3 linked regions of the Homo sapiens genome follow. The gene in region 2 interacts genetically with the main gene of each other region. Each region holds a gene or a part of one and is shown on either strand. Other genes may lie near its edges.

Evidence for each region.
Region 1: changes in MED24 (region 2) and SEH1L together harm fitness more than expected from each alone (negative genetic interaction), as found in Homo sapiens cells (one large-scale study listed by BioGRID).
Region 3: changes in MED24 (region 2) and MRPL22 together harm fitness more than expected from each alone (negative genetic interaction), as found in Homo sapiens cells (one large-scale study listed by BioGRID).

Annotation. Positions count from the first base shown.
Region 1 is NC_000018.10:12,978,972-12,982,622, reverse strand, and holds part of SEH1L (nucleoporin SEH1), read right to left. Parts: intron 106-3,651; coding exon 1-105. UniProt on the Homo sapiens protein: Component of the Nup107-160 subcomplex of the nuclear pore complex (NPC). The Nup107-160 subcomplex is required for the assembly of a functional NPC.
Region 2 is NC_000017.11:40,052,302-40,056,052, reverse strand, and holds the start of MED24 (mediator of RNA polymerase II transcription subunit 24), read left to right. Parts: upstream 1-1,644; 5' UTR 1,645-1,692; intron 1,693-2,395; exon of another isoform or gene 2,396-2,417; 5' UTR 2,418-2,454; coding exon 2,455-2,584; intron 2,585-2,672; coding exon 2,673-2,755; intron 2,756-3,751. UniProt on the Homo sapiens protein: Component of the Mediator complex, a coactivator involved in the regulated transcription of nearly all RNA polymerase II-dependent genes.
Region 3 is NC_000005.10:154,954,463-154,958,113, reverse strand, and holds part of MRPL22 (large ribosomal subunit protein uL22m), read right to left. Parts: intron 1,744-3,651; coding exon 1,678-1,743; intron 980-1,677; coding exon 902-979; intron 1-901.

The sequences.
Region 1 (3,651 bases), on a different chromosome or scaffold from region 2:
GTTATATTCCAACTCACTCGCCAGACCTGAGAATTATGATTATCGAACTGAGCCACTATATGGATTTCAAACTTTGTTGGCCCACCAGAGGAAGTCAGTTCTTTCCTGTTAATAAAAAACATTTTCTGAGGCATTCCAAACAAAGTTTTAAAACATATATATATACACACACATATATATATACACACGTAAAATTCTAAATTAATACAAGTGGTCTCGCCACCACATCACTTTATAATAATGTGCACATCTGCCCAAACCCCACACCTTGGCCCTTGAGCTGGGCCAATGTCATTTTCATTTAACTCGCCAAGACCTGGAGTGATCCCAGCACATAAATGATACTCAGTGACTGTTTCATGGAAGAAAGAAACAACAAAACAGGATGATTTTATTCTCCCACACAAGGCAGAAGAATAAAATAGATGACAATAATTAATTTAAAAAGGCAGGGCAAGGCCAGGTGCAGTTGCTCACACCTGTAATCGCAGCACTTTGGGAGGCCAAGGTGGACAGATCACTTGAGGCCAGGAGTTCAAGACCAGCCTGGCCAACATGGCGAAACCCCATCCCTACTAAAAATACAAAATAAAAAATTAGCCAGGCATGGTGGCGGGCGCCTGTAGTCCCAGCTACTCAGGAGGCTGAGGCATGAGAATTGCTTGAACCTGGGAGGTGGAGGTTGCAGTGAGCCAAGATCAAGCCACTGCCCTCCAGCCTGGGCAACGGAGTGAGACCTTGCCTCAAAAAAAAAAAAAAAAAAAAAAAAAAATGGGCAGGGCAGCAAGTAGGAAAGAATGAAAGAATGGAAAGAAAAGAACTGAAATTCACAATTCAAAATTAAAGTTAAATATGTTATTCACAAGACTGTCTCAATACTAATTTAGTTTTCCCTAAATAGACTGCCACTTGTCATTAAATATTTATAGATTATCAGTTATATTTGGAGAATTGTTAGTTTCAGCCTAAATAAAGCACAGTTAAGAGAATATAAATCTGCTCTTGACTCAATTCCCCTTTCCAAAAAGACATATATTTATATATAAAATGTTCATTAAATAATCCATTCTTCAAAAATGACATTAATTTAAAAGTAACTGTAGGTGTTGGCCGGGCTGGTCTCCAGCTCCTAACCGCGAGTGATCCGCCAGCCTCGGCCTCCCGAGGTGCCGGGATGGCAGACGGAGTTGCATTCACTCAGTGCTCAATGGTGCCCAGGCTGGAGTGCAGTGGCGTGATCTCGGCTCGCTACAACCTCCACCTCCCAGCTGCCTGCCTTGGCCCCCCAAAGTGCCGAGATTGCAGCCTCTGCCCGGCCGCCACCCCGTCTGGGAAGTGAGGAGCGTCTCTGCCTGGCCACCCATCGTCTGGGATGTGAGGAGCCTCTCTGCCTGGCTGCCCAGTCTGGAAAGTGAGGAGCGTCTCTGCCCGGCCGCCATCCCATCTAGGAAGTGAGGAGCGTCTCTGCCCGGCCGCCCATCATCTGAGATGTGGGGAGCATCTCTGCCCGGCCGCCCTGTCTGAGAAGTGAGGAGACCCTCTGCCTGGCAACCGCCCCGTCTGAGAAGTGAGAAGCCCCTCCGCCCGGCAGCCACACCGTCTGAGAAGTGAGGAGCCCCTCCGCCCGGCAGCCACCCCGTCTGGGAAGTGAGGAGCATCTCCGCCCGGCAGCCACCCCGTCCGGGAGGGAGGTGGGGGTCAGCCCCCCGCCCGGCCAGCCGCCCCGTCCGGAAGGGAGGTGGGGGGGGTCAGCCCCCCGCCCGGCCAGCCGCCCCGTCCGGAAGGGAAGTGGGGGGGTCAGCCCCCCGCCCGGCCAGCCGCCCCGTCCGGGAGGTGAGGGGCGCCTCTGCCCGGCCGCCCCTACTGGGAAGTGAGGAGCCCCTCTGCCCGGCCAGCCGCCCCGTCCGGGAGGGAAGTGGGGGGTGTCAGCCCCCCGCCCTGCCAGCCACCCTGTCTGGGAGGTGAGGGGCGCCTCTGCCCGGCCGCCCCTACTGGGAAGAGAGGAGCCCCTCTGCCCGGCCAGCTGCCCCGTCCGGGAGGGAGGTGGGGGGGTCAGCCCCCCGCCCGGCCAGCCGCCCCGTCCGGGAGGGAGGTGGGGGGGTCAGCCCCCCGCCCGGCCAGCCGCCCCGTCCGGGAGGGAGGTTGGGGGATCAGCCCCCCGCCCGGCCAGCCGCCCCGTCCGGGAGGGAGGTTGGGGGGTCAGCCCCCCGCCCGGCCAGCCGCCCCGTCCGGGAGGGAGGTGGGGGGGTCAGCCCCCCGCCCTGCCAGCCGCCCTGTCCGGGAGGTGAGGGGCGCCTCTGCCCGGCCGCCCCTACTGGGAAGTGAGGAGCCCCTCTGCCCGGCCAGCCGCCCCGACCGGGAGGGAGGTGGGGGGGCCAGCCGCCCCGTCCGGGAGGGAGGTGGGGGGGTCAGCCCCCCGCCCGGCCAGCCGCCCCATCCGGGAGGTGAGGGGTGCCTCTGCCCGGCCGCCCCTACTGGGAAGTGAGGAGCCCCTCTGCCCGGACAGCCGCCCTGTCCGGGAGGGAGGTGGGGGGGGGTCAGCCCCCCGCCCGGCCAGCCGCCCCGTCCAGGAGGGAGGTGGGGGGGTCAGCCGCCCGTCCGGGAGGGAGGTGGGGGGGTCAGCCCCGCGCCCGGCCAGCCGCCCCGTCCGGGAGGTGAGGGGCACCTCTGCCCGGCCGCCCCTACTGGGAAGTGAGGAGCCCCTCTGCCCGGCCAGCCGCCCCGTCCGCGAAGGAGGTGGGGGGGTCAGCCCCCCGCCCGGCCAGCCGCCCCATTCGGGAGGTGAGGGGTGCCTCTGCCCGGCCGCCCCTACTGGGAAGTGAGGAGCCCCTCTGCCCGGACAGCCGCCCCGTCCGGGAGGGAGGTGGGGGGGTCAGCCCCCCGCCCGGCCAGCCGCCCCGTCCGGGAGGGAGGTGGGGGGGTCAGCCCCCCGCCCAGCCAGCCACCCCGTCCGGGAGGTGAGGGGCGCCTCTGCCCGGCCGCCCCTACTGGGAAGTGAGGAGCCCCTCTGCCCAGCCACCACCCCGTCTGGGAGGTGTACTCAACAGCTCATTGAGAACAGGCCATGATGACAATGGTGGTTTTGTGGAATAGAAAGCGGGGAAAGGTGGGGAAAAGATTGAGAAATCGGATGGTTGCCGTGTCTGTGTAGAAAGAAGTAGACATGGGAGACTTTTCATTTTGTTCTATACTAAGAAAAATTCTTCTGCCTTGGGATCCTGTTGATCTGTGACCTTACCCCCAACCCTGTGCTCTCTGAAACATGTGCTGTGTCCACTCAGGGTTGAATGGATTAAGGGTGGTGCAAGATGTGCTTTGTTAAACAGATGCTTGAAGGCAGCATGCTCGTTAAGAGTCATCGCCACTCCCTAATCTCAAGTACCCAGGGACACAAACACTGCAGAAGGCCGCAGGGTCCTCTGCCTAGGAAAACCAGAGACCTTTGTTCACTTGTTTATCTGCTGACCTTCCCTCCACTATTGTCCTATGACCCTGCCAAATCCCCCTCTGGGAGAAACACCCAAGAATGATCAATAAAAAAAAAAAGAAAGAAAAAAAAGTAACTGTAAAAGACCATTTTTAAAAAACATTTCAAAGTTTACATTTTTAAGTAAAACTTCCAGAGCAGAAATATAAACCAAATCATAGTTA
Region 2 (3,751 bases):
GGGTGAGCAAAGAATGGTTGTTGGAGGCTAGGCACGGTGGCTCATGCCTACAGTCCTAGCACTCTGGGAGGCCAAGGTGGGTGGCTGAGGTCAGGATTTTGAGACCACCCTGGCCGACATGGCGAAACCCTGTCTCTACTAAAAATACAAAAATTAGTCGGATGTGGTGGCACACGCCTGTAATCCCAGCTACTTGGGAGGCTGAGGCAGGAGAATTGCTTAAACCTGGGAGGCAGAGGTTGCAGTGAGCTGAGACTGCGCCATTGCACTCCAGCCTGGGCAACAGAGCAAGCCTCCATCTCAAAAAAAAAAAAAAAAAGAATCTTTGTTGAGGAATACAGATTGAGCTTGAACTTGTGAACTAGGATATTGGGCCCTGGCTAAAGGCCTCCATGTTTATTTATTTATGTATTTTGGTAGAGCTGAGAGTCTCATTATGTTGCCCAGGCTGGATTTGAACTCCCGAGCTCAAGTGATCCTCCTTTCTCAGCCTCCCGAGTAATTTACTCTTATTCCTGGTTGTAAATGTTAGGGATGACCAGTCCATAGCATGGGGAGGGATGAGGGCTATGCATAAGAAGGCTCAGACATTGGAGCCTCCAGAGGTGGGTAACATTTGCTTTCGGGTTTCTCACTGGGGGAAGGAAAGGCTATGGCCAAAGCCCTGGGCATAATTTATATATGGATCTTTGGGATAAGCAAGATTTAAACAACAACAACAACAACAACAACAAGAAACTTAAAAAAACAAGTTTTTAATTTACAGGAAAAAAATGGAAGGTAATAGAGGGTCCCCACATATTCTGCACCCAATTTCTCTTTTTATTAACATCTTAGCATTAGTATTATGCATTTGTAACAACTAATGAACTAATATTGATACATTATTATTAATTAAAGTCCACCCTTTATTTAGATTTCCTTAGTTTTTACCCAGTATTCTTTTTCTCTTCCATGATCGCATTCAGAAAACCACATTACATTTAGTCATCAGGTCTCCTTAGCCCTCTTAGTTGTGACAGTTTCTCAGAATTCCTTTGATTTTGATCACCTTCACCTTAGTTTCCTCTTTACTTTCCCTTGTATCCAAGCTGTATGGAGGGCCTGGAGATTCTGATAGGACTGTAAGATTCGGGGACGGTGATATGTGTGCAACTAAGGCACCTCGGTGTCGCTTTTAGAATATAGTTGTGGAAATGAGAATAGCTCTGGTAGCTCCAGGGGCTTAGGAGAACAGAAAGAGCCCAGGAAAGGAGAAAGACCTTATTGCTGAACGCCACACCCTTGCCCCCACGCCACACCCTTGCCGCACCTACTAACTAGGGGCTAACGAATGAAAGGGTGTCGGAATATGATGGAGAAGCCCGGTCGACAGTGACGTCGTGGGCGACGCCGGGTTGTGAGCGGCCTTTCGAGCTCCCTCGAGTCCCTGAGTCTCTGTAGTGCCTCAGCTCCTGGATGTCCTCCCTTAAAGGAGAAGAACAATGCGGGCCGACTAGACGAGTCCCTTAGTTTCCTCGCCGGCGCAGACAAATACGGTTTCAGTCCAAGGAACTACCATTCCCAGAAGACAGCGGGGCGTTCCTTGCTGCATTTCTATTGGTTGGCGTTTGTTACTCCCAGCCAATAGAAAGTGAGCTTCTTGACAAGTGCCAAAATGGCGATGCCTACCACCTAGAACTGGATTGTGCGGTAGGCTTAAATTTGGGGAGGTGGTGGATGAAAAGGAAATTGGGAGGTATAGTTACAGGGCTGGAGAAGGTGGAGGAAATGAGGGAGCAAATCTGGACTTGGAATGGTGGTGGCCAAGGGACGCTTTTAGAGCTAAGGGCGTAATTAGGCAACCAGGACTGCCTTAACTCCTTGATGCCCTGTTTAATCTATTAGTCCCTTTGATACTTCTTTATTCATTTATTTGAGAGACGGAGTTTTGCTCTTGTTGCCCAGGCTGGAGTGCAATGGTGCGATCTCGGCTCACCCCAACAACCTCCGCCTCCCGGGTTCAAGCGATTCTACTGCCTCAGCCTCCCGAGTAGCTGGGATTACAGGCATGCACCACCAAGCCCGGCTAATTTTGTATTTTTAGTGGAGACGAGGTTTCTCCATGTTGGTCAGGCTAGTCTCGAACTCCTGACCTCCGGTGATTCGCCCGCCTCTGCCTCCCGAAGTGCTGGGATTACAGGTGCGAGCCACTGCGCTCGGCCGATACTTTCTTAGTGCCCCAGTTTAAGGAAGGGCGGTTCAGGAGGAGAGAGTCTGACAGGATCTTACTTTATCCCTTTAGCTCTTTTTCTTTCAAATTCCTCTGTCTCGCTTAAATCTTCCCGCATCTTCTCCTTTCTATTTAATTCTGCCTTCCCCGGTTCTCCTTAGAACCTCATGTCCTTTTCTTTAGCTCCATTTCTTTCACCTCAAAGCTGGCCGCCACCGCTGCCACCTGCTCAGAGTGAAATAATGAAGGTGGTCAACCTGAAGCAAGCCATTTTGCAAGCCTGGAAGGAGCGCTGGAGTGACTACCAATGGGCAATCAACATGAAGAAATTCTTTCCTAAAGGAGCCACCTGGGATATTCTCAACCTGGCAGGTCTCAAGTGAACTGGGAAAGAAAGATGGGAGGGATAAACCCAGAGAAGTTGTAATCACTCAGTTGTGTTTTGCTATTCCTCTTGCAGATGCGTTACTAGAGCAGGCCATGATTGGACCATCCCCCAATCCTCTCATCTTGTCCTACCTGAAGTATGCCATTAGTTCCCAGGTAAGCTTCCCGCAAACCCCCACCAAGAAGTGAGAGTTCTGGGGGTAAAAAACTTGGAGTGCATTTGGGCCCCGGTGGTTCATGGCTGTAATCCCAGCATTGTGGGAGGCTGAGGCAGGCGGATTGCTTGAGCCCAGGAGTTCAAGACCAGCCTGCGTAACATGGCAAAACCCAGTCTCTACCCAAAAATACAAAGAGTTACCCCTGCGTGGTGGTGCCCCTGTAGTCCCAGCTACTTGGAAGGCTGAGGTGGGAGGATCACCTGAGCCCTGGGAGGTCGAGACTGCAATGAGCCATGATCCTGCCACTGCCCTCCAGCCAGAGCAACAGAGTGAGACCCTGTCTCAGGAAAGAAACAAACAAACACAATTTGGGGTGCAGTTGTACAATTGTCAGCTTACTCTTTCTAGATGAAAGAGTAAGATTCTAGATTGATCTGTTTGAACAGATCATTTCAGTGAGTTTCAGTGTTCTCATAAAAATAATACTTCATTTGTTGTGATGAATATTACATTCACTTATTCTGCTGGGAGTGGTAGCAGGTAGCACAGGCCTGTGGCCCCACCTACTCAGAAGGTGGAGGTAGGAGGCTTGCTTGAGCCCAGGAGTTTGAGGCTACAGTGAGCACTGATTGTGCCACTGCACTCCAGCCTGGGCAACAGAACAACACTCCGTCTATTAAAAACAACAACAAGCAAAAGAAAAAAAGAGGATTACATTCACCTATTCTATCAACAAATACTCATGAATGCTTTTATGTGCCAGACAGTGCTTAGCCCCTGGGGAATATAGCTGTGAACAAAACCCGATGTCAGTACACAGAAAATTTAGTGGGTAATATAGACATGTAAATAAGCAGTCACTAGATGGGTTTATGATAAAGGTTAGGATAGAGTACAGATGCTCCTCAACTTACAATGGGGTGATGTGCTGATATACCACTCATAAGTTGAAAATGTACTTAATACACATAACTTGCCAAAGGTCATCTACCTA
Region 3 (3,651 bases), on a different chromosome or scaffold from region 2:
AATCCCATCTCTACTAAAAATACAAAAATATTAGCCGCGTATGGTGGCGCGCAGCTGTAGTCCCAGCTACTCGGGAGGCTGAGGCAGAAGAATCGCTTGAACGCAGGAGGCGGAGACTGCAGTGAGCCAAGATGGCGCCACTGCACCCCAGCCTGTGCAACAGAGCTAGACTCCGTCTCAAAAAAAAAAAAAAAAAAAAGAAAAATATATGTAATAAAAAAAGAATATTCATGTTCCTAGAAAGAGTCACCACAATTACCATCAGCACATTTGTATCTAGTGAATTAGCTACATTTAGAGTTGGAAGGATCTTTAGGGGTCATCTAATCCAATTCCACATAGTTTAGGTGAGAAAAATAGAAACTGACTGGTTAAGTGTCTTGCCCACGGTCACAAGAAAAAGATCAGAGAAAGGACTAGAGTCCAAGTCTCTTGAGTTCCAGTCCAGGGCTCTTTCCATTTAGTTACAAAATTACTTAGTTATAAAAACTCTCCTTTATAGGAAAAAAAAAATCTTCAAAAAAATATACCTTGAAGTTCAGCCTTGCTCCAAGAAATAAATTATATACACAAACACACATACATACACACAAATACACACATATACGTACCAAGCCCCAAATCATTAAAAATAAGATTCATCACATCATAAGCAGTAAAAAACAGATAAATATTTGGTGGAAATAAAAGCACCTCAGGAAATAAACCCTAAAGCACACAACATTCCTAAAGTATACACATATTTAATAAACTGAGAACCCTAAATCTGTATTATATAAAGTATGCATTTACAACAGAAAATTTAGGGAATTCATGATTTAGGCTAAGCTTACTAATAATTGCAAGACAGCTGCATTCCCCAGTTCCCCATTCCCTACCACACCCAAACTTGTAAGTTTACCTCTTTAATTATTTTGGCCCCTTTTTTGTCATTGAATTCCAACTGAGCCAAAGCCTGGTCAATAGACATTCCTCGTATCTAGAATTAAAGGGTGAGAGACAAAAGAAAATAAATTAGTTTACAAAGTCAATGTTTCCTTTTCAATGAAAGTCTTACATAATTTGAGTAACTTCTAAAAACAGTGAATTGAACCCAAATAAAAGAGAAGAAAACAAGTTTGAGAGGAGACACTATTCTCTTTCAGTCAAAATGAAACAAACATTTTAACCATAAAACTGAGATTATAATAGTTTCAATAACATTAAAAGACAGCAAACATGACAGAGAGACCACAGGTTGGTAACAACCACACTAGGCATTCAAGGCATCTCCTTCTCCTATAGGATAAATGTATTACATGTATATTTGCTGCTTCAGTCTCCCCTCATCTATAAATTTCATTTCCTAGGGAAAAAAACTTAAAAGCAACAGTTTTAAAACAGGTTGAATCAAGTTTACAGATAAATAGGTGGGTTTCCTGGATTCTCTGGTTATAGCCAAACTCCTGATGCCTTTTAGTATCTATCTATCCAATGTGATTTAGTTTCTCAGAAAAAGGTGAAAATTAAGGAAAATCATACATCTCTGAACAATCATTCTTTTGACAACCTACCAATTATATCACATTCCTCACAAATCTTTTTTATTTTTCAAATCCTGGGGTGAGGGGTGGGGAGGGGAACTCATAGCTTCTTTCCTAAATTATTAATTATATGGTAATAGTCATTGCAGCTTACCAATTTTGCCAAATACCACATCTTGTCTTTGCTATATTTTATTTGTCTTCGACAGTGGTAGATTTCCTTACAAATTGGAAAAAAAAGGACAGAAAGAAAATGTTAGCAGGTTTACCACAAAATGACAATAACATATACTGTTATTTAAGTTTTTACTTTCTAGGCCTAAAGAAAATGCTGCCATAAGAAATAGAAACATTACTAAGAATTTAGAGATTATTTTCCCCTACACAAAGTTGTATTTTTCCAAAGTCTCACTATGTTAAAAGATTACTACGGGAGAAATAGAAACTATACAATGGCTGGTTTGTGTCAACACTTGCAACATTTCTATCCAAAGAAATCCTAAAAGATTTAAATGAAAGTATCTTTAAAACATTTAGCTGATTAAAAGAACAAAAGAAAAAGTACAAGAAAACGTTCATTATTAATGAGGAGAAAAATGGCAAAATGGACAAGTGTTTTCATGTGAAAAGCCAATATTCTAGGTGTTTGGCCAACAGCATAGGTTCTAGAATCAGACTGCCTGCCTGGATTTGAATCCTAACTCTGCCATTTACTAGCTACATAATCTTGAGCAAGCTACTTAACCTCTCTCTAATTTTCCTCTTCTGTAAAATAAATAAAACGATAATTAGAGGGAAATAAAGTAACCTATTTCAAGAAACCATTTTATAGTGCTTGGCACATGGTAACTTCTCAGTAAATGTTAGCTTTTATTATCTTCTATTTAAAGTTGTAGGTATGTCCTGTTTAATTACAATGTATAGTTCAAAAAGCACTTTTCACTCATTATTTCATTTAGTCTAACTCTATGAGTTGAGGGATGAAACATTTTACATATAAACTGAAAATCAGAGAAATCAAGTGACTTGTCTAAGACCAGAGGTTTGCAAGAGACAAAGTTGGAATTCAAAGAACAGAGAAGTATGATACACCTGATACAATGTCTAGCACATCTACTTTCAAAAGTTCCTCTATTGACTCTAAAACCCACTTTCTTTCCACTACTATACCAAACTGCCATTTAAAAAAAAATTAGAAAACATGTGTTATGGAAAACTATAGCAAGGAGGTCTCAAAACTTTCTAACATTCTGACTCCTGCTGGAAATTTTCAAATGCCTTAGAAAGAGCAGTTTTCTCAAGTGGCCATCTTTTAATATGTGGCAGATTTCAGTTGCAATAGAAGCAGACAGCCTGAAACTATAGCAATAGCCTAATTACATTTTCAGCAATAAAGTTTCTTGGGGAGACAGGGAGAGGAAAGAACTATCATGACTGATAATAATAATCTGCAAAAATTAATCCACTCAATGAAATCTTTCATATAGAAGAGACCCTTGGCCGGGAGCAGTGGCTCAGCCTGTAATCCCAGCACTTTGGGAGGCCGAGGCGGCCGGATCACAAGGTCAGGAGATCGAGACCATCCTGTGAATGGTGAAACCCCGTCTCTACTAAAAATACAAAAAAAAAAAATTAGCCGGGCATGGTGGCCGGCGCCTGTGGTCCCAGCTACCCGGGAGGCTGAGGCGGGAGAATGCCATGAACCCGGGAGGTGGAGCTTGTAGTGAGCTGAGATTGCGCCACTGCACTCCAGCCTGGGCGACAGAGCGAGACTCCGTCTCAAAAAAATAAAAATAAAAAAGAAGAGACCCTTTAATTTGTGCATTCTTGTGGTGGGATAATTTTAAACCTTAATTTTGTATGATTACCCTCAAATTTTACACATATAAACAATGGTAATCCTGACCAGAGGATGGCAAAAAGGAAGAAGTGTTTACAAGAAAGGCAAAAGTTAATCATCCTCTTCCAAAACTGAAAAAAAACCTCAGCATTTACTTTGGGCAGGTGAAATGTCTAAGGGCACTTTCTAAAGATAAACGAGACAAAGTCTCAGTACGTATCAAGCAAATAAAGTAACAAAGGTGGAGGTCAGAAGACCTAGTTATATATCTCTGCCATTAACTGACCT